Homo sapiens: one gene and its partners. The protein of the gene in region 1 purifies or fractionates together with the protein of each later gene. This does not show direct contact. Each region holds a gene or a part of one and is shown on either strand. Other genes may lie near its edges. The genes, in order: ZNF174, EML4, SKAP2, PUS7, PI4K2B, ATF7IP and DDX11.

What was found.
Region 2: the proteins of ZNF174 (region 1) and EML4 purify together in Homo sapiens (affinity purification with mass spectrometry; one large-scale study listed by BioGRID and IntAct). This does not show direct contact.
Region 3: the proteins of ZNF174 (region 1) and SKAP2 purify together in Homo sapiens (affinity purification with mass spectrometry; one large-scale study listed by BioGRID and IntAct). This does not show direct contact.
Region 4: the proteins of ZNF174 (region 1) and PUS7 purify together in Homo sapiens (affinity purification with mass spectrometry; one large-scale study listed by BioGRID and IntAct). This does not show direct contact.
Region 5: the proteins of ZNF174 (region 1) and PI4K2B purify together in Homo sapiens (affinity purification with mass spectrometry; one large-scale study listed by BioGRID and IntAct). This does not show direct contact.
Region 6: the proteins of ZNF174 (region 1) and ATF7IP purify together in Homo sapiens (affinity purification with mass spectrometry; one large-scale study listed by BioGRID and IntAct). This does not show direct contact.
Region 7: the proteins of ZNF174 (region 1) and DDX11 purify together in Homo sapiens (affinity purification with mass spectrometry; one large-scale study listed by BioGRID and IntAct). This does not show direct contact.

What each region holds. Positions count from the first base shown.
Region 1 is NC_000016.10:3,399,848-3,404,014, forward strand, and holds the start of ZNF174 (zinc finger protein 174), read left to right. Parts: upstream 1-1,367; 5' UTR 1,368-2,157; coding exon 2,158-2,559; intron 2,560-4,167. UniProt on the Homo sapiens protein: Transcriptional repressor.
Region 2 is NC_000002.12:42,259,853-42,263,352, reverse strand, and holds part of EML4 (echinoderm microtubule-associated protein-like 4), read right to left. Parts: intron 2,233-3,500; coding exon 2,059-2,232; intron 176-2,058; coding exon 47-175; intron 1-46. UniProt on the Homo sapiens protein: Essential for the formation and stability of microtubules (MTs). Required for the organization of the mitotic spindle and for the proper attachment of kinetochores to MTs. Promotes the recruitment of NUDC to the mitotic spindle for mitotic progression.
Region 3 is NC_000007.14:26,735,591-26,739,090, forward strand, and holds part of SKAP2 (src kinase-associated phosphoprotein 2), read right to left. Parts: intron 3,289-3,500; coding exon 3,205-3,288; intron 1-3,204. UniProt on the Homo sapiens protein: May be involved in B-cell and macrophage adhesion processes. In B-cells, may act by coupling the B-cell receptor (BCR) to integrin activation. May play a role in src signaling pathway.
Region 4 is NC_000007.14:105,505,272-105,508,771, reverse strand, and holds part of PUS7 (pseudouridylate synthase 7 homolog), read left to right. Parts: intron 1-227; 5' UTR 228-259; coding exon 260-657; intron 658-2,498; coding exon 2,499-2,583; intron 2,584-2,715; coding exon 2,716-2,817; intron 2,818-3,500. UniProt on the Homo sapiens protein: Pseudouridylate synthase that catalyzes pseudouridylation of RNAs.
Region 5 is NC_000004.12:25,240,533-25,244,032, reverse strand, and holds part of PI4K2B (phosphatidylinositol 4-kinase type 2-beta), read right to left. Parts: intron 1-3,500. UniProt on the Homo sapiens protein: Together with PI4K2A and the type III PI4Ks (PIK4CA and PIK4CB) it contributes to the overall PI4-kinase activity of the cell. This contribution may be especially significant in plasma membrane, endosomal and Golgi compartments.
Region 6 is NC_000012.12:14,417,682-14,421,181, forward strand, and holds part of ATF7IP (activating transcription factor 7-interacting protein 1), read left to right. Parts: intron 1-286; exon of another isoform or gene 287-895; intron 896-1,532; exon of another isoform or gene 1,533-1,680; intron 1,681-3,500. UniProt on the Homo sapiens protein: Recruiter that couples transcriptional factors to general transcription apparatus and thereby modulates transcription regulation and chromatin formation. Can both act as an activator or a repressor depending on the context.
Region 7 is NC_000012.12:31,097,860-31,101,359, forward strand, and holds part of DDX11 (ATP-dependent DNA helicase DDX11), read left to right. Parts: intron 1-25; coding exon 26-138; intron 139-317; coding exon of another isoform or gene 318-442; intron 443-2,700; coding exon of another isoform or gene 2,701-2,736; exon of another isoform or gene 2,737-2,775; coding exon 2,776-2,848; intron 2,849-3,112; coding exon of another isoform or gene 3,113-3,167; coding exon 3,168-3,271; intron 3,272-3,500. UniProt on the Homo sapiens protein: DNA-dependent ATPase and ATP-dependent DNA helicase that participates in various functions in genomic stability, including DNA replication, DNA repair and heterochromatin organization as well as in ribosomal RNA synthesis.

The DNA of each region.
Region 1 (4,167 bases):
CTCCCACCTTGGCCTCCCAAAGTGCTGGGATTACAGGTGTGAGCCACTGCACCCGCGAAGGCAGTCTTTTTTAATGAGTTTGTGTTGGTTTTTATCTACTTAAAACACAGATTAAAGCAGATCGTAATTTACATTTTCTCCAGGGGCTGATACACCCTCACCATGTGGTATTAAAATGGATCCAGCATGCACAACAAGATGAATATACTCAGGACTACTGAGCTGTACACTTAAAAATGGTTATGATGGTAAATGTTTTTTAAAAATTAAAGAAATTTTTTTATATTTTAAAAATGGATTTGGGTTCCCTTTTCTCAAGGAACTTGAACTGCCTTCACTTAAATTCTCTTTACATTTCAGTGCTTCTAGAGATAGAGAAATCAAGGGCATTATTATTGTTAGCACTGCTTTCTAGCCAAAAAGAAACTGAGAGCGATGAAGTATCTTGCCTAAAGCATCACACAGCACAGCTCCTAGGCAGCAAGGCCAGGACTAGAACCAGCACCCCTTGCCTTCATTATGTTCATCCTGTGCCTTACCTGGCTGAAGAAGAATTTAATAAAAGCTCTTCTAACTTCATGCAGAAGGCGGAACCTGCACCCTTCTTGACCCCTTTTGACCCCTTACCTCCCACTCATCGTTAAATTTTAAAATGCTGTTCTCTGAAAATTTTACTTCACTCTAGCGATGGCCCAAACACTCGGAAAAAAATGTAGCATGAGGATGGGGAGCCAGGTTGATAGGTTTTTCACTTAGTTAACTATTTATTGAGTACTCAGAACGCACTCGGTGCCAGGGCTAGGCACTGTGGATGAGTAGGGAGTGGGCGAGACAGGGACGAGATGAGCAGGGTCAAGGCCAGGGGGTCCCGGGGCGCCGGCGCTCAGGCTCGGGGTGATCCGCACGGTGGGAGCGGGGCACGGTGATCGCGGCGCGTCTGGGGACGCCCGGCCTGAGGGAGGCTGCCTGTCCCAAGGAGACGCCCATCGGGGCCGGACCCGAACGCCTCGGAGAAGACTCCCAGCGGGGAGGGGCTCCTCGGCCGTCGCAGGGCCCAGCGGCTAATCCCGCCGGCCGCAAGGAAGCGGAGAACTCACCGGACACCAGCACTCGCGACTCCACAAACTCCCTCAGCCTCCGGGCCGGAAGTCAGCGGCGCGATTCGCTCCGCCCATTACGCACGCCCCTGCGCAGGCCCGCAAGCCGAATTGCCGGACTGCAGCTCCCGGGATGCACTGCGACGGTATTGACAGGCGCAGCAACCAATAGACGGTAGAGAATGCCCTTGGCAGGAGGCGGGCCCTGTCAGTAGTTGTCCTCAGCAGCTAGTGGGCGTCTCCGCAGCGAGTGGCATCGGCCCCGCCCCCAGCCCGTGCTCGCCGGTGTCGGGTCCTAAGTCCCTCGGTCTTGGGTTCCCGGAGAGGTGAGTCGGCTGCAGGTGGGTGCGGGGCGCCGGGCTGTTCGGGGTACCGGTGTCGCAGTCGCCAGTCCGAGCTCACACCGGGCGTGGAGTTCAGCTGCGCATCGGGTTGCGGCAGCTTCGCCAGGCCTGGGGCTGGCTGGGCCGCGGGGCCGCCCTGGAGGCCGGAGCCACTGGGCCTGCGGCGCCTCGGCAGCGAGCAGCCGCTTTGCTCGCGTGCAGGAGGCTGTTCGCTACCTCACACCCCCGGCTGGCGCTGTGGCCTCGCTTAGCTCTACCGTTTAGCACCCGGCGACATGCACCCGGTCGGTTTCCGCCAGGATGCGGGAGAGTTGGGGCAAGCTACCTGCGACAGCTTGAACTTTTCCTAGGGATTCCGCTCCACCCGCCGGTTAGAGCGTATTGCTCATTAAATCCGAGACCTGTGTGCTTGCTACTGAAATAAAAGAAGTATTTTTTCCCCAGAGTCCTTTTAGGACGTTATGACTTTTCTCCTTTGCAAGACTGCAAAAAACTGACAAGAAGACAAAACTCTTCCCACTCCCAGGGACCGCGTTGTCTTGAGTTTGGCTAGTAAAGGCTAGCAAGTGAGGCTTTGTCTCTGCATCCCGTTCCCCCTAACATCCTCAGAGAACCTTCGTTTCTAGAATCTTTCTAGTATTCAGAGACTTCTCCAGGGTCATGATCCCAAAGGCTTAACCCGTTTACAAGGAGAGAGTTGTCTCCTGACGCCCAAAATGGCAGCTAAAATGGAGATAACTTTAAGCTCCAACACTGAAGCTTCCTCCAAGCAAGAGAGACACATAATAGCCAAACTAGAAGAGAAACGGGGCCCTCCTCTGCAAAAAAACTGCCCAGATCCTGAGCTCTGCCGCCAGAGCTTCAGACGCTTTTGTTATCAAGAGGTGTCTGGACCCCAAGAGGCTCTCTCCCAGCTCCGACAGCTCTGCCGTCAGTGGTTGCAACCCGAGCTGCACACCAAGGAGCAGATTTTGGAGCTTCTGGTGATGGAGCAGTTCCTGACCATCCTGCCCCCGGAGATCCAGGCTCGGGTCAGGCATCGATGTCCAATGAGCAGCAAGGAGATTGTGACCCTCGTGGAAGATTTTCACAGAGCATCCAAGAAACCAAAGCAGTGGGTAAGGAGGGTCCTCTCCCATCATCCTGGGGATTTCTTTTTCTTTTCTTTTTTTTTTTTTTTCTTTTTTTGAGACGGAATCTTGCTCTTTCGCCCAGGCCCGAGTGCAGTGGCGCTATCTCGGCTCACTGCAAGCTCCGCCTCCCGGGTTCACGCCATTCTCCTGCCTCAGCCTCCCGAGTAGCTGGGACTACAGGCGCCCGCCACCGCGCCCGGCTAATTTTTTGTATTTTTAGTAGAGACAGGGTTTCACCGTGTTAGCCAGGATGGTCTCGATCTCCTGACCTCGTGATCCGCCCGCCTCGGCCTCCCAAAGTGCTGGGACTACAGGTGTGAGCCACCGTGCCCGGCCGATTTCTTTTTCATCTGGGTAATGTTTGGTATCTGGATCTCTCCCTATTTAAGTCTCAGAAGTGGACTGGATGGCTTCAGAAGTTGCTTCCAGCCTCTATCTGGGAACCTATCCTGAGTTATTAACAGGTTTTTAGAAAATCCAACTACTGATACCCAGTGAGGCAACAGAGGACCAAGGTTCTTACCATTCCTTTATGCACCTTGTGTCACCAGAAGTAATTGTAAGGTTCTTAAATCCCTTCTGTCAGCTCTTCCCCCACCCAACTTAGTTTTCCTACTAGCAGAATTCTTAGCAGATAGGGTCACCCTGTTGGGTAGCAGTTGGACTTTGGGGAACTTCATTTCATTGGAAGTTCTAGCTTATTGTCTTTCCAGTGTTTAGCTTATAGTCTTTTTTTTTTTTTTTTTTTTTTTTTTTTTTTTTTTTTGAGATGGAGTCTTGCTGTGTTTCCCAAGCTGGAGTGCAGTGGTGCCATTTCAGCCCACTGCAACCTCTGCACCCCAGGTTCAAGCGATTCTCAGGTCTCAGCCTCCTGAGTAGCTGGGTTTACAGGTGCCTGCCACCACGCCCAGCTAATTTTTGTACTTTTTAGTAGAGAGGGGGTTTCACTATGTTGGCCAGGCTAGTCTCGAACTCCTGACCTCAAGTGATCCTCCCGCCTTGGCCTCTCAAAGTGCTGGGATTACAGGCGTGAGCCACCACACCTGGCCTAGCTTTTTGTCTTTGATTTTTTTTTTTTTTTTTGAGACTGGGTCTCACTGTGTTGCTGAGGCTGGAGGGCAGTGGCACGATCTCAGCTCGCTGCAACCTCCATGTCCAGCTCAAGTGTTCCTCACACCTCAGCCTCTCAAGTAGCTGGGACTGCAGGTACATGCCACCATGCGTGGCTAATTTTTGTACTTTTGTAGAGACAGGGTTTCTCCACATTGCCCAGGCTGGTCTTGAACTCTTCTTGGGCCCAGGCGATCCGCCCGTCTTGACCTCCCAAAGTGCTGGGATTACAGGAGTGAGCCACACAATGCCTGACTAGCTTATTGTCTTTGGATCAGGAAGTTACAGTTCAACTGGCCAGCGTTGCCATTGCTTGCCACTCCCCGCCCCGAAGTCAGACCCCAGTCAGGACCTAGGCAAGAAGCAAACGGCAGGTACTTCGGAAAATAGAACTTGTTAGGGAATGAAGGTGGGGTGGTCCTCTTAGACCCCTACTACTACTGGGATCTCCTTACCAGGAAAGCCTTTGGCAGAACAATGTAT
Region 2 (3,500 bases), on another chromosome or scaffold:
AATAATTATTACTTTTCAGATATAATGAAGAAAGTGCAATACTTACTTGTCTGCAGTTTTGGTAACTTTTGGTATTAATTTGGGTGTTGAAGGTATTTTCGACAATTTATTACGGCTATCATCTGAATTTTCCCAAGAATTATGTGACTTTTCAGCTGGTGATGGTCGTTTTATGCTAGAAGGAACATTAATTTCTTAGAGAAAAATTCTGAGTATCAAAGACATGTAACTGACAATTTAAACAGAACACAAAAGCAGCAATTAACATTTCCTTAAAGCTAATCCAGAAAAGAGAAGGATTAGTTGAAAGACTGCCTGGATGAGTGAAGGAGTTAAACAAGGCAATTCCCAAATCTGTATTATAATTTTCTGTATCACTCAGAAGATTCACTAGAACAAATATTACCTGATTTTTTTTAAAAAACACTTTTGTTAACAGAAAAAAATTATTTCCTTACATCTGAGTAATGTTTCTTATAATTTGTAGTTACAAAAAAACCTGTATTTTTTCATAGCCATTGAATTTTATAAGGCTGCCATTTTCATTTTTTGTGCAATTATGTCCTCAGGTAATTACATTACATATGGTACAAATGACAATTTCTAAATATAACAAGGTATAAACTCTTGTTTATATCTTTAGGGACAATTTTACCAATGATCAGAAATAAACAAGACTTTATATAAGAATGTGGTTATTGGCAATCCTGATTCCCTATACTTATAAGTGAAATTTGTTTCTTTACAAATGATTTTTTCATTGCATTGCTAACTATCCTCAAACTCATCCAGTCTCCAATACTTCTTGCAACAGTATATCCAAAGAGCAATTTAGGAGGGCAAGCACATTTCCAGGAGACCTCAAGAAGCTGAAAAAAAGATGCTGGGACAAAGAAGATATCAAGTGAAATCAGAACCTTAAAGAGACTGATTATAAAAAGCCACCTTAAACCACACACAATCCAAAGTTATGTAACGTTAATAAGCTATATCCAAGAAAAACTCCACAGGAGACCAGGCAGATAAACTACAAACCATTTAGATTGGGTAAGAATCTGCATGAGACACACAGACAAAGCATTTTGTAAGTGGTAAACATGCATCGATCAAGTGAAGGGTATTTTGGTTTTCCCAATTTCCATTAGCGATTTGAGGCAAAATATTAAATTGATCAAATAAAAATTTAAATCTTTTAGGAATGGTTGTCATTTATTTTATTAAAATTCTAGCCAGTTCTGGAAATGGTTTAATAGTTTCCTAAGATTTCCAAGCAGAAGTACGATGATAAAATATGACTATTCCTAATCACAAGGCTTGAATAAGCATTTCTAAACAGGCAAATTTAATTAGATTGGTCTCAATATTTGATTAGGAGGCAGCTGTAGCACTGTACTCCCAGCATGCAGGTTTAGATTCTCAATTTAGGCTCACACACATTGTTAGAATATTTCTCCCTTTTCCCCTTCTCATAACTTTAAAATATTAATTATTACGGACACAGAAGCCCTCAAGCAAGCCTTTAGCATAGAAAAGACCAGGTGAAATGGATTCATTTCTCTACTCAAGCAAGAACTTATCCTCCCAAGACCCAAAACTGAAACTGAGATGCAGCCACAGTGAAGAGCCACTTGAGATGGGCCCTTGCAGGTTGAAGGTTGTAATGATGCCAAAATACAGTGAGGACAATTACATATGGCCATTTTCTATCCATGGCTATAAATTTATGCATAGTTACATACATATTTTAAAAGTATTCAAAAATGTGGTTAAGAAAATATTGTTTGGTTTTCGACTAGGTTATTCCTGCCTTCTTTTCATCAGATTGTTTATAACTTAGTTTTTTTTTTTTTTTTTTCCAGTTTTAACTGAGAAATTGTGACCTTAATTCTTTATTCCCCAATGGGCTATAAAGCATAAATTATAAGCAATGAAGAAGGGAAAAATAAAGCCACCAGCTTTTTCTCTCAGAATCCTTGGATAGCTAACTTTTTCCCAAGTCACAGAATTTAGGTATCATTACAACCATTCCCTAGCTCTGTACTTGGGGACAGTTAAAACCTTTTGGTGGGAGTAGCATTCTTGCTTTCTGGAGTTTGTCTGTGTATTTGGAGAGGTTGTGAAGAGGGCTGGGGAGAAGGTGATGCTCGAATTTGTGGACTTTGATCATTAGAATGAGATTCCTCTTTTTTTTCTCTCTGTCCTTGTGGTTTTTCTTTCTTTTTTTCTGTACCACTGTAAAATAAAGTATAACATGGAACAATACACATTTAAACAAATGAAAAAAAATCAAACGATAGAAAAGTGATTATTATATAATTCAAAACCCTAAGTCATACAGCTAATACAATTTGCACTGTTTTCATTCAATAAGGACAATATTTCTTTGAAAATTCCAGAAGCTATTAACATCTTCAGTAAAGAATTTATAAAAATTCTAAGGCGATACACCCCATGAAGATTGCCCCTTTAGACAGAAATGGTCTCTAATAAACTTTGCCATCTTGGCAGATTTTGGGGGACAAATGAAGGTCTCTTAACTGACCTCAAGTTACCCAAATCAGAGGACTATCTGTGTAAAGCATACCGACTGATGCCAAAAGAACACTAAATATTCATGTTTAATAGGTTATTCTCCAATTCCTGTTTTTTTTCTGTATACTTCTACTCCACTCAATTGAGTTTTAAACTTACCAAGAGTTTAAGTTTTCCCCAAGTCTGTTTATGCCAGTTGTTATTTTAATTATGTAAGTTAATTAAATACAAAGAGAATTGCAATTTCTATGAAAACTAAGTTTAATGTTCTAGAAAGACTACAAAAAAAATGAGTTATCAAAAAAATTGCTGTTAAATTTAGTGTGAGTGACACAATTTAAAAAATCACAGAGGCGGCTGGGCGCACTGGCTCACGCCTGTAATCCAAGCACTTTGGGAGGGCGAGGCAAGTATCACCTGAGGTCAGGAATTCAAGACCAGCCCAGGCAACATGGTGAAACCCCGTTTCTACTAAAAATACAAAAATTAGCTTGGCGCAGTGGCATGTGCCTGTAATCCCAGCTACTCGGGAGGCTGAGGCAGGAGAATCACTTGAGCCAGGGAGGCGGAGTTTGCAGTGAGCGGAGATTGCACCATTGCACTCCAGCCTGGATGACAGTGCGAGACTCCATCTCAAAAAACAAACAAATCACAGAGCCCGGGTGTGGTGGCTCACACCTGTAATCCCAGTACTTTGCGAGGCCAAGGCAGGAGGATTACTTGAGCCCAGGAGTTCAAGACCAGCCTGGGCAACAAAGTGAGACTCTGTCTCTTTAAAAAAAAAAAAAATTGGCCAGGCACAGTGGCTCACGCCTGTAATCCCAGCACTCTGGGAGGCCGAGGTGGGTGGATCACGAGGTTAGGAGATCAAGACCATCCTGCCTAACATGGTGAAATCCCGTCTCTACTAACAAATACAAAAAATTAGCTGGGTGTGGTGGTGGGCGCCTGTAGCCCCAGCTACTTGG
Region 3 (3,500 bases), on another chromosome or scaffold:
CAGTTTAACCTAGTAAGTGGTGTCAACTCCTTCTGTGCCTCTATAATCCATTTATCTAAATCCTACTTAGTTGGAGGATTATAGTTCTCATATAGCTAGATATGAGTTCTTCCCATTAGGTAAATGGTTCACACATACAGTAAACAAGGCTATAAAAAATCATATCTAATTTCACAAAAGAAAAAAATTATTTGACATATTTTCCTGGTAAGAAAAAGATATAAAGGAAGGAAATCGGGATCATGCCAAACAAGTAATTAAAAACTGTCTAAAGACAGATCTTTTTTTGGAGTCCCTTAAAAGAGAGGAACTGGCTAAAAATTTCGAATGAAACCGCCAATAGAAAAAAGAACCACAAGAAACAAATCTAAAATTTCACTGGAAACAGGAGGCTGCAAAGTAAAAGGGAAAAATTTAAGGAAACACAAGCCACATCTTCAGACATCAACATGAAAAAGGAATGCTAAAATGGTAATTTTTTTAAAGTGGAAGTGTCAGAGGCTTTTAAACCAGAGCAACTCCGTCTTGAATAGGGGCTGAGTAAAATAAGGCTTTGACCTATGGGGGCTGCATTCCCAGGAGGTTAGGCATTCTTAGTCACATGATGAGATAGGAGGTTGGCACAAGGTACAGATCACAAAGACCTTGCTGATAAAAGGATGCAGGAAAGCAACTGGCCAAAACCCACCAAAATCAAGATGGTGATGAAAATGACCTTTGGTTTTCCTCACTGCTCATTATATGCTAATTATAACGCATTAGCATGCTAAAAGACACTCCTACCAGTGCCATGATAGTTTACAAATGCCATGGCAACATCAGGAAGTTACCCTATATGGCTTAAAAAGGGGGAGAAACCCTCAGTTCTGAGAATTGCCAACCCCAGTTCAGGAAAACTCATGAATAATCCACTGCCTGTTTAGCATATAATCAAGAAGTAACAATAAGTGTAAGCAGCTGAGCAGCCTATGCTCTGCTTTGCCTATGGAGTAGTGATTCTTTTGTTTCTTTACTTTCTTAATAAACTTGCTTTCACTTCCCTCTACGGATTGGCCTCAAATTCTTTCTTGCATGAGATCCAAGAACCCTCTCCTGGGGTCTGGATCAAGACCCCCTTCCAGTAACAGAAATGACAGAAAGGGCTAAATGGATCACAAAGTAGTTAAAATGCAAATTACAAACAATGTTACTACCATTAGGTCTCATCAAATAAGAATAAAAATGAACTCAGGAATTCAAGATTGCAGTAAGCTATGATGGCACCACTGCACTCCAGCTTGGGTGACAGAGTGAGGCCCCCGCATCTCTAAAAAGAAAAAAAAAAAAAGGAATGTAACTAATATCTAAATAACTCTAACTAAAATGTTTTCATTGAATATATTAGTGTTTGAAGTAAATATTAACACGCTTTGGGTTTTGGGGAAACTCTTGCTAATCTTTGACCTAACCATTGTTATATGCCAGTCAGGACTAGAAATGGAGGAAACACTGACATTAGTATTCATTGATTCTTAAAGAAATTAGAAATGAGAAGCCTAATTGAATCAAAGTCACAAGGATCTGAAACCTCCCTCCCCTGGTCTGGTGAAAAAGAGGATATTTTGTGGAAGGTAGTATCTCGATCTAAATTCACAATATCATACAAAACTATATTTCTATGATCTGTGATAATCGTAACTGAACTTGGACTCTAAATTTTCTGACCTACTTCACTACTGACCCTTAGCAGAAGAAAGATGCTTGTTTATAGCTGTTTACAGTTTACACTTCACTGATGCCATTACTACATCTGAACATACTGTAAATTAGTGATGGAATGCAAACTAGCTACTAAATTAATTAATTTGTTAATCTCATTAGCCAAAAGGTAAGAACAACTTCCAGCATTATGTAAGTATTTCAGACTTATCTGAAATATGACAATCTTACCTGTATGTTTTTAGAATGGGGGAAAAAACTCTAAAAACTATAAATAATGTCAAATAAAACATAAATTTCCAAACAACACTGATAACAATTCCATAGGAAAGCTTACATTCAGTGATACTTTTGCCTTTTTCTTCTTAAAGTGTCCTTTCTGGAAATGAACATTATCTATTTTGATACAACCTTTACTTTATAATATTCAACTCCTAGCCTGTTTTCCCCAGAATAAAACAAAACTCAGAAAGCTTACAATCTTTAAATTTCATTATTTGGTGGCTTTATTTGTTCAAATAACAATCTTAAAATTATGTGAACTACAACTGAGAGATTTATTAATTAACAATGAAGTTATAAAATGTATCCTATTATTTCTAAATTAATGTAGTGACAATAGTGGTTGAGAACATGGACTCTAACCATATTCTCTAGGTTAAAATCCCAAATTTGAGCTGGGTACAGCGGTGTGCACCTGTAATCCCAGCTACCTGGGAGACTGAGACAGGAAGATCACTTGAGCCCAGGAGTTTGAGGCTGCAGGGTGTGATGACTACACCTGTGAACAGTCACAGCTCTCCAGCCTAGGCACCGAGACAAGACCCTGTTTCTAAAAACAAAGGAAAAACAAATTCCTAGATCTGCCATTTTCCAACTCTGTGACCTTGAACAAGTCACTTAACCTCTCTGTTCTCAGTTTTCCTAAAAGTCAAATTAATGGTGCTAATAATAGTACTTACAGAGTTGTTGTGAGCTAAACAAGTTAACATAGCTAACGTACTTAGACAAAGTGCTTAGAACGGTGCCCAGTATATAGTAAATTCTATGTACACGTTTGCTGTTATTCCTTAAATCTGTAAAGGGAGCTCAGAAAGGTGCTGTTCGTATTTAATTTTATCTAATTTTATTTTAAAATATTTAAGAAAAATAATCTATTTTCTGCCATTGAAACTCTCACAACCCTATGTTCTTAACTTTTCCAGAAATTCTACAACAGTAGGCTGGATAATAAATATTCCCTAAGGTGAAAGGCCACACAGATTAAAGTTATTTTACTCTCTTTTCTAATTCAATACAACACAATTGTTTTAGCTCTGAGGGTATTCTGGTATTTGGAGCATTTGTCAAATAATGAAATGAATCATAAATTAGTCAGATTATAATTGTTATAATTCTCAGTTATTATTAGTTTGTCTTCAGTTTACTCTGTACTCAAAAGAGGGGGAAGGGATGGCCAAAAATTCTTTTGCAATAGTAGTTGATATAATTGAACACCAACATTACCTTTATCACTTCCATAATAATAGAATACCGTTTTACTGAGAGCACACCACCGTTTCTGCCATTCAAATCCCAGAAAGCTGTGATCTGCAATAAAGAGGGGAAAATGTAAGGCCATTTCCTTACTGTAAAAGAAAAAGTTAATTAATATGATTTCTAAGATTCCTCTGAGCTCTAACATTGTGTGACTAATTTGTATCTTCTTTTCCAAGAGACAAAAAACCAAACAACAACAAACCAACACAGCTAAAGGGAATAAAGTAAAGTAGCTATGGGGCTGCCATACTTATGGGATCAAC
Region 4 (3,500 bases), on another chromosome or scaffold:
GCCTCCCAAGAGCTGGGACTATAGGCGCCTGCCACCCACGCCTAACTAATATTTAGTAGAGATGAGGTTTCACCATGTTGGCCAGGCTGGTCTTGAACTCCTGACCTCAAGTGATCTGCCTGCCTTAACCTCCCTCAAAACGCTGGGATTACAGGTGTGAGCCACCGCGCCCGGCCTGAAACCAGCTTTTATATAGGTGATTGTTACTTTCTACTCTTTCCTAACAGGTTTTCTTAAATGTTTTCTTGGAGCCTTAAAGATGGAGATGACAGAAATGACTGGTGTGTCGCTGAAACGTGGGGCACTGGTTGTCGAAGATAATGACAGTGGAGTCCCAGTTGAAGAGACAAAAAAACAGAAGCTGTCGGAATGCAGTCTAACCAAAGGTCAAGATGGGCTACAGAATGACTTTCTGTCCATCAGTGAAGACGTGCCTCGGCCTCCTGACACTGTCAGTACTGGGAAAGGTGGAAAGAATTCTGAGGCTCAGTTGGAAGATGAGGAAGAAGAGGAGGAAGATGGACTTTCAGAGGAGTGCGAGGAGGAGGAATCAGAGAGTTTTGCAGACATGATGAAGCATGGACTCACTGAGGCTGACGTAGGCATCACCAAGTTTGTGAGTTCTCATCAAGGGTTCTCGGGAATCTTAAAAGAAAGGTACATTTAGTTTATGAATAAAGTTATTTTGATTGTATTAGGTTTCTTCTTTAGAAAGAAATTAGCTTTATATTCTTCCACTTAGCTTTCCATCTCCAAGGCTTGTTTATACTACTGATCAAAAGGAATAGGATGAAGGAAACCTGCCTGAATAAATAGCCTTGGATTTTTAAATTTTAATTAATTAATTTTTTCCCTTTTTTTGAGAGAGGGTCTCACTCTGTCACCCAGGCTGGCATGCAGTGGCATGATCATGCCTCAAATAAATTCATTCACCAGGCACAGTGGCTTACGCCTGTTATCCCAGCACTTTGGGAGGCCGAGGCTGGCGGATCACTTGAGGTCAGGAGTTTGAGACCAGCCTGGCCAACATGGTGAAAGCACATCTATACTAAAAATACAAAAATTAGCTGGGCGTGGTGATGGGCACCTGTAATCCCAGCTACTCGGGAGGCTGAGGCAGGAGAATAGCTTGAACCTGGGAGGTGGAGGTTGCAGTGAGCCGAGATTGCACCACTGCATTCCAGCCTGGGTGACAGAGCAAGACTCTGTCTCAAAAAAATAAGTAAATGAATAAATTCATTTAAATGGTTTCAGATTTTCTCCTGAGTTTGTTTTATAATCTTAAACTCTTTTTTCATTTGAATGTGCCACAACTATGTTAGAAGAAGGTAGTCTTTGGAGCCAGGTGGATCCCAGTGTGAAGTTCGCTACTTAGTAGTTACTTAGCCTCTCTGAACCTCAGCATCCTTATTTAAAAAATGGATCAGGCCAGACACGGTGGCTAACGCCTGTGATCCCAGCACTTTGGGAGGCCAAGGCGGGCAGATCACTTGAGGTCAGGAGTTTGAGACCAGCCTGGGCAACATGGCGAAACCCTGTCTCTACTAATAATACAAAAATTAGCCTGGCGTAGTGGCACGCGCCTGTAATCCCAGCTACTCGGTAGGCTGAGGCAGGAGAATCACTTGAACCCAGGAGGCGGAGGTTGCAGTGAGCCAAGATCAAGCCACTGCACTCCAGCCTGGGCAACAGAGCAAGACTCTGTCTCAAAAAAAATAATAGTAATAAAATAAAATTTTTAAATGGATCATATTACCACATTGGGGTTGTTGAGGATTTTGAATAATGCATGTAAAATATTTAACATAAAGGTAAGCTTCAGGCTAGTTCATGGTAGACTTACTGGGTTCTGATTCAATTAACCATATAGCATATTTTGTGATTTAATTTAGTGTGGGCTGCCTGAATCGTCATAGGGTAATGTTAATAAGCTTTTGTTTTTGCATTTCTCTGGAAGAATATTCTAGAAGCTAAGAGGGTCTTTTCTTTAAGTTCTCATATAAAACTTGAGCCAAGGTATGGCTCAGCATTCATTAAGAAACCAGAAAAGACCGGATGTGGTGATTCACGCCTGTAATCCCAGCACTTTGGGAGGCCAAGATGGGCAGATCACTTGAGGTCAGGAGTTCAAGATCAGCCTGGCCAAAATGGTGCAACCCCGTCTCTACTAAAAATACAAAAATTAGCTGGGCGTGGTGGCACGTGCCTGTAATCCCAGCTACTCGGGAGGCTGAGGCGGGAGAATCACTTGGACCCAGGAGGCGGAGGTTGCAGTGAGTGGAGATCGAGCCACTGCACTCCAGCCTAGGCAACAGAGCAAGGCTCCATCTCAAAAAAAAAAAAGAAAAAAAAAATTAACTCCATGTGATTTTGCACTGAAGATTTTTTAAAATTCCTTGTTTTGCATAATAGTAAGGCTTGCTGTTGATCAACTTTATCTTAAAATTAATAGAAAACAGGATGTTAATTATCTGAAAGTTCATGTTTTCTTTCATCAGATACTCCGACTTCGTTGTTCATGAAATAGGAAAAGATGGACGGATCAGCCATTTGAATGACTTGTCCATTCCAGTGGATGAGGAGGTAGAAGTAGCTCTTTAGCAAATGTCACCTTCTGTATAAAAATAGCATTTCCTAGAGATTTAGAAATATAGAGCTTTATTAAACTTGAATTCTATGTATGATTCATTGTGAGTTCTCATGGTTATTTTAAAGGACCCTTCAGAAGACATATTTACAGTTTTGACAGCTGAAGAAAAGCAGCGATTGGAAGAGCTCCAGCTGTTCAAAAATAAGGAAACCAGTGTTGCCATTGAGGTAACTAATGCAAAAATATATGAAAAATTATTTAGGGTTTTAGTTGCTTTTTGGGTGGATGTTAAGTGTTTATGGAAAAAATTACAATGGTTAACAAAGGGTGACTTTTTGCTCTATTGGATCTAAAGGATATTACACTAAAAAATTTTTTTACTGGGGCAGATAACTAGTATCCCAGATAAACTATAGCCCCCCCCAAAGTTACATTTTTGTTTAAAAACATTTTTATTTGGGTACAGTGTTACATGCTATTCCAAAGTCCTAGCTACTCCGAAGGCTGAAGCCAGAGGTTTACTTGAGCCCAGGAATTGGAGACTAGCCTGGACAACATAGTGAGACATCATCTCTGAAAAAAAAATTTAGGGACCACAAATGAACAGCGACATATGTTGTTTAGAATCCCAGAGTACCAATTATACCACAATGTCCGTTGTAACAGGACCACCATTTGCTGTCTGTCAGGTATGTGACCCAGGTCAGATTCTGGCTTCAGCAGCTTCTTGGCCTCAGTTGGGACTCTGGGAAGGGGAGGAAATGGGGAAAGGAAGTAGGGGAGCATTTATTTGCTCATCGTGGGTCAATTCTGCTATTGAAGAAAAGGAGAGCTCAGCTACTAAGTAGAATAGTAAATTTTGTTGTTAAAGCTTTTGTTCGCCGGGCACGGTGGCTCACACCTGTAATCC
Region 5 (3,500 bases), on another chromosome or scaffold:
CTTAGATCAAATCCTGGCCTTTAATGAGAAGAATGTGACTTTAGATGCAGCCCAAGAGTTTGGAGATACCTGGTGTCTTAGTCAAGTAAATGATAGAATGACAGCCGAAGAAAGGGACAAATTCCCTACCAGTCAGCAAGCCATCCCCAGTATGGATCCCCACTGGGACCTTGACCAGATCATGGGGACTGGAGTCGTAAACATCTGTCGACCTGTGTTCTAGAAAGACTGAGAATTAGAAAAAAGCCCATGAATTATTCAATGATGTCCACCATAACTCAGGGAAAGGAAGAAAATCCTTCTGCCTTCCTCGAGCGGCTACGAGAGGCCTTAAGAAAATATACTCCCCAGTCACCTGAATCACTCGAGGGTCAATTGATTCTAAAAGATAATTATTACCCAATCAGCCACAGATATCAGGAGAAAGCTCCAAAAGCAAGGCCTGGGCCCTGAACAAAATCTAGAGGCATTATTAAACCTGGCAACCTCGGTGTTCTATAATAGGGACCAAAAGGAACGGGCCCAAAAGGAAAAGCAAGATCAGAGAAAGGCCGCAGCCTTAGTCATGGCCCTCAGACAAACAAACCTTGGTGGTTCAGAGAGGACAGAAAATGGAGCAGGCCAATCACCCGGTAGGGCTTGTTATCAGTGTGGTTTACTAGGATGCTTTAAAAAAGATTGTCCAATGAGAAACAAGCTGCCCCCTCATCCATGTCCACTATGCCGAAGCAATCACTGGAAGGTGCACTGCCCCAGAGGACGAAGGTTCCCTGGGTCAGAAGCCCCCAACCAGATGATCCAACAACAGGACTGAGGGTGCCCGGGGCAAGCGCCAGCTCATGTCATCACCCTCACTGAGCCCTGGGTATGTTTAACTATTGAGGGCCAGGAAATTGACTTCATCCTGGACACGGGCGCGGCCTTCTCAGTGTTAATCTCCTGTCCTGGACGACTGTCCTCAAGGTCCACTACCATCTGAGGAATCCTGGGACAGCCTGTAACCAGGTATTTCTCCCACCTCCTCAGTTGTAATTGGGAGACTTTGCTCTTTTCACATGCATTTCTTGTTATGCCTGAAAGTCCCACACCCTTATTAGGGAGGGATATATTAGCCAAGGCTGGAGCTGTTATCTGCATGAATATAGGGAACAAGTTACCCATTTGTTGTCCCCTACTTGAGGAGGGAATCAACCCTGAAGTCTGGGCATTGGAAGGACACTTTCGAAGGGCAAAAAATGCCCAGCCAGTCCAAATCAGGTTAAAAGATCCCACCACTTTTCCTTACCAAAGGCAATATCTGGTAAGGCCTAAAACTCATAAAGGATTACAGAATATTGTTAAACATTTGAAAGCTCAAGGCTTAGTAAGGAAATGCAGCAGTCCCTGCAACACCCCAATTCTGGGAGTACAAAAACTGAATGGTCAGTGGAGACTAGTGCAAGATCTTAGACTCATCAATGAGGCAGTAATTCCTCTATATCCAGTGGTACCCAACCCCAATACCCTGCTCTCTCAAATACCGGAGGAAGCAGAATGGTTCACGGTTCTGGACCTCAAGTATGCCTTCTTCTGTATTCCCCTGCACTCTGACTCCCAGTTCCTCTTTGCCTTTGAGGATCCCACAGACCACAAGTCCCAACTTACGTGGAAGGTCTTGCCCCAGGGGTTTAGGGATAGCCCTCATCTGTTTAGTCAGGCACTGGCCCAAGGTCTAGGCCACTTCTCAAGTCCAGGCACTCTGGTCCTTCAATATGTGGATGATTTACTTTTGGCTGCCAGTTTGGAAGCCTCATGCCAGCAGGCTACTCTAGATCTCTTGAACTTTCTAGCTAATCAAGGGTACAAGGTGTCTAGGTCGAAGGCCCAGCTTTGCCTACAGCAGGTCAAATATCTAGGCCTAATCTTAGCCAGAGGGACCAGGGCCCTCAGCAAGGAACGAATACAGCCTATACTGGCTTATCCTCACCCTAAGACATTAAAACAGTTAAGTGGGTTCCTTGGAATTACCGGCTTTTGCTGACTATGCATCCCTGGATACAGCGAGATAGCCAGGCCCCTCTATACTCTAAACAAGGAAACCCAGAGGGCAAATACTCATCTAGTAGAATGGGAACCAGAGGCAGAAACAGCCTTCAAAACCTTAAAGCAGGCCCTAGTACAAGCTCCAGCTTTAAGCCTTCCCACAGGACAAAACTTCTCTTTATACGTCACAGAGGGAGCCGAGATAGCTCTTGGAGTCCTTACTCAGACTCCTGGGACAACCCCACAACCAGTGGCATACCTAAGTAAGGAAACTGATGTAGTAGCAAAAGGCTGGCCTCACTGTTTAAGTGTAGTTGCAGCAGTGGCCGTCTTGGTGTCAGAAACTATCAAAATCATACAAGGAAAGGATCTCACTGTCTGGACTACTCATGATGTAAATGGCATACTAGGTGCCAAAGGAAGTTTATGGCTATCAGACAACCGCCTACTTAGATACCAGGTGCTACTCCTTGAGGGACCAGTGCTTCAAATACGCACATGCATGGCCCTCAACCCTGCCACTTTTCTCCCAGAGGATGGGGAACCAATCGAGCATGACTGCCAACAAATTATAGTCCAGATTTATGCCACCCAAGATGATCTCTTAGAAGTCCCCTTAACTAATCCTGACCTTAACCTATATACCGATGGAAGTTCATTTGTGGAGAATGGGATACGAAGGGCAGGTTACACCATAGTTAGTGATGTAACCATACTTGAAAGTAAGCCTCTTCCCCCAGGGACCAGTGTCCAGTTAGCAGAACTAGTGGCACTTACCAGAGCCTTAGAACTGGGAAAGGGAAAAAGAATAAATGTGTATACAGATAGCATGTATGCTTATCTAATCCTACATGCCCATGCTGCAATGTGGAAAGAAAGGGAGTTCCTAACCTCCGGGGGAACCCCCACTAAATACCACAAGGAAATTATAGAGTTATTGCATGCAGTGCAAAAAACCCAAGGGGGTGGCAGTCTTACACTGCCAAAGCCATCAAAAAGGGGAAGAAGAGGGGAGAACAGCAGCATAAGTGGCTGGCAGAGGCAGGGAAAGACCAGTAGGAAGGAAAGAGACAGGAAGTCAAAGAAAGAGACAGAGAGGAAGAGACAGAGAGACAGAAACAGAGAGACAAAGAGAAGGAGACAGAGAGAGGAAGAAACAGAGAGTCAAAGAGAAAGTGACAAAGAGAAGGAGTCAGAAAGAAAGAGGGACAGACACAAAGTCAGAGAGTCAGAAAGAGAGGAAGAGACAAAGAAATCAAAGAGAAAGAAAGAGAGATGGAAGTAGTAAAGAAAAACAGCATACCCTATTCCTTTAAAAGCCAGGGTAAATTTCTGTCTACCCAGCCAAGGCATATTCTTGTTATGTGGAACATCGACCAATATCTGCCTCCCCACTAACTGGACTGGCACCTGCACCTTAGTCTTTCTAAGTCCCAACATTACCATTGCCCCAGGAAATCAGACCCTATCAGTACCCC
Region 6 (3,500 bases), on another chromosome or scaffold:
AATAGCATAAAAGATGTAAATCTTATCCATTTATGTGTGTGGTATATTTAATGCGTGTTACGTGGATTTAGGGTTTTATGTAAACTGTGTTCTAGATTACTTATTTCAAACAAAGAACCACACTTAAGTATTGCAGATACAGTTTTTGTTTAACTATGTTTTTCTGACCTTATTGTCTGTCTCCTGTTGCTGGGCAGGAATCAGAATGCTGGCTGCTGATTGGCTGAGTTTGTGAGCAGCTCTTGAACAGCCATTTAAATTCTTGAGCTTTTTGAGCAGGCAGATTGTAGGCTAAGACATAACAGCTTCCCTTTGTTGTTTCATTGCTATGATCTCTTGCTAGAAAGAAGTGGGTGGAGGGGGATGAAGCAGAGAAGAGAGTAATGTTTTCATTTAAAGAAGAAGCTCGTTGGGCTTTCCTTAAAAATATTTTAAAAATAATTTACCAAAAATTTGAAAAAAAAATTTCCAAGCCAGAGAGACTTATTTGCAGGTAACATACCCTTCTCTGGTTATTTAAATATAAATTTCTATAGAAAAAGGTTTTATTAGTGATATTATTTTCCCAGAGTTCTTGAATATACAGAGACTTAAAAAACATTATTTTGACTCTCATCCTCATGAAAAAAATACTTTCAGGAGAAACTAGTTCATCATGTTTTGCAGTTACTTTTAGACATGGCAGACATCTTCTGCCGTAAAATACCAATGCTTTTTTCTGTGAAAATGAATTACAGTCATGTGAAAGCTTTCTGATTTGAGTTGCCACCTAAAATACTAACATTTATTTTATAGAATAGTTTTATGAATGGCATCTTAGTTCTAGGCGACAGTACTAAAATGATCCTTGGAAGTGTTTTGCACTGGTATTACAGCCATGGAAACTTGTTTGCAGGTAACACACCCTTCTCTAATGTGTATCTTTCTCAAATATGCTTCGCTAATGCAAAATACATTTCTAAAAGCAGACTGCTGATTGGTTTGTACAGATATGGCTGAACTAGTTTGAACTAATTGTTCGTGTTACTTCCTTATTGCTTTGTCTGTTTTTTATTATATTTAGAACCCATAAGATCTGGTAAATGGCTGTAGTGTGCTCCCTTGTGGGTATGGATGGTAGTTATTCTATAATTCTTTTTAGAGTGCTTTATTATTACTGAAGTTAATGACAATTTTATTGATAAAATCAACTTTTCTTGAATTATATATTTTTATTAAATATTATTTGGTGGTGGCAATTTAATATTAACTGTGAGGTTTACATGTTGGATTTTCTAATTTATATAAAAAATACCAAAGAGGAATTTGTCTTAGACTCTTTAGTTTATTCCTAAAAACATTATCCTGAATATTTAGTTTATTCCTAAAAACGTTATCCTGAATATATAGATGGTGATGGTTATACCATTTATTGAGTTCTTACTACATTCCAAGTGCTTAATGTATAGAATCTCATTTAGTTCTCATGGCAACCTTTGTGACAGGTGTTGGTATTAGTCCCTTTTTAAGGTAACCAAAACTAAGAAATTGATGTTAGGTAATTTGCCCAGTCTCACACAGTAGGTTTCCTGGGAGAGTTGGAATTCAAATCTGTGAATCTGTCTACAGTCTACAGAGTTCATGTTCTTAATTGGGTTATTAAAAGTGATGAATTTTTTTAAAGGAATGCTTACTTTTAATGTAAGAGTTCATGTTCTTAATTGGGTTATTAAAAGTTATGAATTTTTTAAAAGGAATACTTTTAATGCAATTGGTAATAACTACCAGCTGTCCATCTAATATCTGAGAAATGCGGATATTATGAGGCTAAAGTTCAAAAGAATGGCCTTTCAGTATTTTGAAATACTTAAAGGGTAACTATACTACTTATATTATAAACTTAATTATTTTGTAGTTTTGGAATTAGTAAGGAAAAGTGACAGCAAAATACAATGCATTGTATCTGTATCTTTTGCAGAAAATTTTGCAGTTAGCAAAACTTTGTAATGATGGGAAGGGAAAAACCTTGAAGGTGTGAAATTTTAGTCTGTAATTAAAAACCCTTAACATAATGTTTTGTATTATATTATACAAATTTTGTATAATTTTGTATTAAGGTTTTGTATTATTATATATACATTTTGTATTAAGGTTTCTGTTTAAATGAAGAGTAATTTTTCTAAATAGTTGATTTAGTTATATAATTTAAATAAAATGGCTAGAATAAGAAATATGTTCTAAGTAATTGGCTTAAAGTGAGAGAATGAATACAGAATGTATCACAGTCTAGAAATTCTCTGACAAAGTGCTAGAATCTCAAGCTGAATTGGCTTCCAGCAAGTAGGCTAGGCTTATTATTTTATGCGCTTCAGCCAAAGACCAGCAGGAACACCTTTGTAATTGAAAAAGTTAGGTTTACTATTTGCTGCAGGGAGGAAATAATGTTCACTATGGGGAAACTGTAAGGCACATCAATCAGTAAGAGGATGTTAGAAAAAACCTAGTATAGGATTTGAGTATAGTATAGGTTGGGTTATTTTGGGGAGAGATTAAGGAAGTAGATCCTTATCGTGGATTGGGTGACATCAGAAAGTGGGGGCACTTCTATTCTTGGGTATCTCAATAAATTTTATCTATATAGGGAGGACAGACTATTACAAGATAAAGCTGTAATTGATAAAGAAGTTGGCCTGGTGTGGTGGCTCACACCTGTAATCCCAGCACTTTGGGAGGCCGAGGCAGGTGGATCACGAGGTCAGAAGATCAAGACCATCCTGGCTAACACGGTAAAACCTCATCTCTACTAAAAATACAAAAAATTAGCCGGGCGTGGTGGCGGGCGCCTGTGGTCCCAGCTACTCGGAAGGCTGAGGTAGGAGAATGGCATGCACCCAGGAGGTGGAGCTTGCGGTGAGCCGAGATCACGCCACTGCACTCCAGCCTGGGCGACAGAGCGAGACTCCGTCTCAAAAAGAAAAAAAAAATAAAGAAATAGCCATCACTCATTTAGTGAGGGGGGATGTTTGGAATTTTGTGGGTTGCACAGTGACCTTGTCTGACTTGAATGTTCTCTGAGTTGGTTTTATGTCCAACCAGAGAACAGCATGGCTTAACTGTAAGCATCAGATCCATTAACAACATTGAGCCCTAACTGTGAGTATCAGTTAAGTTTCCAGGCATCAGGGGCTGCTTTTCTTTCTTTCTCAGGCCAAAGCAAATGTATTCTACCATATCATTCCTACTGGTGATGGTAATGGTAAGTGACTATCCAATGTGAAAACAGTATTCCTGCCTCCTGTACATCTTAGTCCTTAAAGCAATTTTGTTTTATTCTACTATTGATTGATGACATTGTTTTTCTTCAGAACCACATCCTTGTGCTCTTTTGTTTGCCTTTATTGCACTGGCCAGATGTTAACAAGGAAATGGTTACAGGAAACATCCTTGTTTTCTTCTGATCCTATTTCAATATCAGACATGATATCTCTAGTTTTCTTGGTAGATAACCTTTATCAGATTTG
Region 7 (3,500 bases), on another chromosome or scaffold:
ACCTCCCACCGATCTGTTTTTCCAGGCAGCCTCAGTCAGAGCACCCTGAAGTTTTTGCTCCTGAATCCAGCTGTGCACTTTGCCCAAGTGGTGAAGGAATGCCGGGCAGTGGTCATTGCGGGGGGTACCATGCAGCCGGTAAGGACACCTTTCCCAGCCCCTCGTGCCCCAGGTGTTGGGATGAGATGGGGGCTTGGGAGAGATGCATTATCAGTCCTGTTCTCTCCTGGGGCCCCAAGCCAGAAAGGGTCAGCTCGAGCAGGCCCAGTGGTGTCCGCTGGGTGACACTGCTATTCTCTCACTGCTGTGCCTTTTAGGCTGCAGGAGCAGTGGAGACTCCTCTGCTGCTCCATTCTGTAGCCCCAGGATCACATGTCTCCCAGAGAAAGCTGTTCTGTGGTTTCAAACTCAAGGAAAAAAATCATGATTCCACTTTTAAAAGGTTCATTTTGATGTATATGAATATAATAGTCTTTGTAGGCGTAATTTTTACTTATGTGCATAGCTGTTTTAAAAACAAAAGTACGGCTCCCTCCATGTGCTGTCACTGGAACTTGCTCTTTTCACTCAGCAGCCAGAGGGTCATAAACCCTGTCTCCTTGTCAGCAAGCATGCACGTATTTCAGTATCCCAGCTGTGCTGGATTCCAGTTACACAGATATATAGCATTTCATGTAGCTGCTTCTCTCTTGTTAGGTGTGCAAGCTATTTGCAGTTTTCTGTTTTGAGCATGACTGTGATAAATATAACCGCATTTCTGCACAGTGGTGACTCCTACCTAGCGAAGGGCCTCCTGGACAAAAAGCTGCTGGGAATCCTGAAGCAGTGCTTCCCAGCCCCAGCTGCCTTAGCTTTTGATTTTTATATTTTTGTATGGATAGATTCATAGTTTTATTCATTCGGCATATTAAAAGTTGTTTACAGTAATTATTGTTTCTGACGTTCACATTGTGAGAGCCCCTTCCTGCTAGCTCAGGTCCTCCCCGTGGCCCGGTCAGTCTCGCCTCCAGCACAGCAGAATGTCATGGGATCACCATGGGTGTCCTTTCCCCACACTGGATTGATTCATTTCTCCAAGCTGCTCTGGTTTCTTGTAATGGGGAATGACATTTAGAAGTCAAGCTGTGGGTGCTAGGGTGTTTGTCGTGCTCCTGGGGCGTTTTGGTAGACAGATCTAGGAAATGTTTTCAGAATGAATCCATACTGGTATTTCTTTCTTTCTTTCTTTTTTTTTTTTTTTTTTTTTGAGACACAGTCTCGCTCTGTCTCCCAGGCTGGAGCGCAGTGACCTGATCACGGCTCTCTGCAACCTCTGCCTCCGGGGTTCAAGCGATTCTCATGCCTCAACCTCCTGAGTAGCTGTGATTACAGGCATGTGCCACCACACCCAGCTAATTTTTGTATTTTAGTAGAGATGGGGTTTTACCATGTTGGCCAGGCTGGTCTTGAAATCAGGTGATCCGCCAGCCTTGGCATCCCAAAGAGCTGGGATTACAGGCATGAGCCACCACGCCTGGCCCATATTGGTGTTTCTAAGTAAAAATCAAAGGATTTGTTTACTTGACCTTTTATTGTACCTCTTTTTCTCTTAAGCCTGAACATGTGTGCTACATTAACATACTTATCTGCTCTATCCTATAATATACTTAAAAGTTTTGAAATCATAGTACCAATATTACTTCTAACAATAGATCTGATTGAAATTGCCTTTCCTCTTTGCCTTTAGAGTGTAACCCACTAAGGATGCCTGGTCACTAGGCTCTAAAGTCACGTGGAACCAGGCTTCTCTCCGTGTGCTTCTGTTGTCAGTTTCATAGATAACTAGGCTGTTTTTGTTTCATTTTCTTTTCAATTTTAGAATTTGCTTTTTTCTTTTCTGACTTGTAGTTTTTAAATATGTAAATATTTGTATGGCTCAAAAGTCAAAGCAATATAAAAAGATCTATTCAGGAAAGCCTCACTCTCATCCCTTTCCAGCCCATTCCCCACCCCCATAGGGAATCCGTTTTACTAGCTTATCCTTTCAGTCTTTCTTTTTCCCCTAAATAAGCAAAAACGTGTCTTCATTTTTCCCTTTCCTGTTTTATTTACACAGAAGGCATCTTAGTCAGTTGTCTGACCATCGCTCCTCTAGTGGGCTGCGTGGTTCTCTGTTGGACAGATGTAGGGAGCTTATCCAACCAGTACCCTCTGGATAGGCAGGCGCATGATTACAGGGAAAGGTCCGGGGGCACATGCTGTTTGGTATTTGTGGGCTGTATCTTCTCACTGGACTCCTAAATATGGGATTCCTGGGTTAAAAAGTATAAATATGTTTAATTTGTTAACTACTGTGAAATTTCATGAGAATTGTACCATTCTGTATCCCACCAGTACTGTCTAGGAATGCCTGTTTCTCCAGAGTGGTTACTTTTGGATTTTTGCCAGTCTAACAGGTGAAAGCCTGGAGATTCTTATTCAGTAGTTTGGGCTGGGGCCTGGCCATGTGTATTTTTGAAAATTTTCGCTGGTGATTTTGCTGCATGGCCAGGGTTGATAATGACTGTGCCAGATTTGCTGGATTTCCTTTGCTGTTCCTGCACATAGTTTAAACGAGACTGCCAGCACTGGGTATCAGTCACCATTTTTCTTTTTGTTAGTTTGCCATCAGCCTTTTCTTTGACCTCTTCTTTCAGTTTGTGTGTACTTGCTGTCTCTTAGCCCAGACTTCTCGCTTCCTTTCTGCTGGGCCTCTGAGGGGTCATGGGGCCGTGACGCTGTGGCCTTGGTCTACAGGTGTCTGACTTCCGGCAGCAGCTGCTGGCCTGTGCCGGGGTGGAAGCTGAGCGCGTGGTGGAGTTTTCCTGTGGTGAGAAGCTGTGCCCAGGGTGGGGCAGGCTAGAGGTCAGGTTCTGGCCCCCGTTTTCTGTGGGTAATACCTCATACTGCGACCAGGCACAGGGGCGGAGGAGACCCCGGGGTGGGAGCCTCACCCTTCGTGCGCTCGCCCAGGCTCTCCTGCTTTGCTCCCTGCTGCCTGCTGCCCAGTGTGACTGGTGATGGTGGGCGGGTGAGCGCTGTCAGTCGCTGTTCCTGTGCTGGATGATGGGGCAGGGAAATGCCCTCTCTGCAGTGTCTTGCAGCACACCTGCATCTCCAGTTTTCGGCCCCTCCCTGGCTCTTACCAGGTCACGTGATCCCTCCAGACAACATCCTGCCCCTCGTCATCTGCAGCGGGATCTCCAACCAGCCGCTGGAATTCACGTTCCAGAAAAGAGAGCTGCCTCAGATGGTCAGTCCCAGCCAGCTCGCCGCACCACAGCCTGGCCTCAGGCAGCAAAGGGTTTTCTGGGGCAGGGGCGCTCTGGCCCACCCTGAGTGTTTTCAGTGTTGGGGAAATTGCACAGGGACACCCGCTTAGAGCCACACAGAATGAGCGGCGTCGATCTAGATGCTTATGGAGGAAGGTCTGAGCTTCCCCGCCCCTCACGCCTTAGGCTGCGAAATATGTATTCATAAAA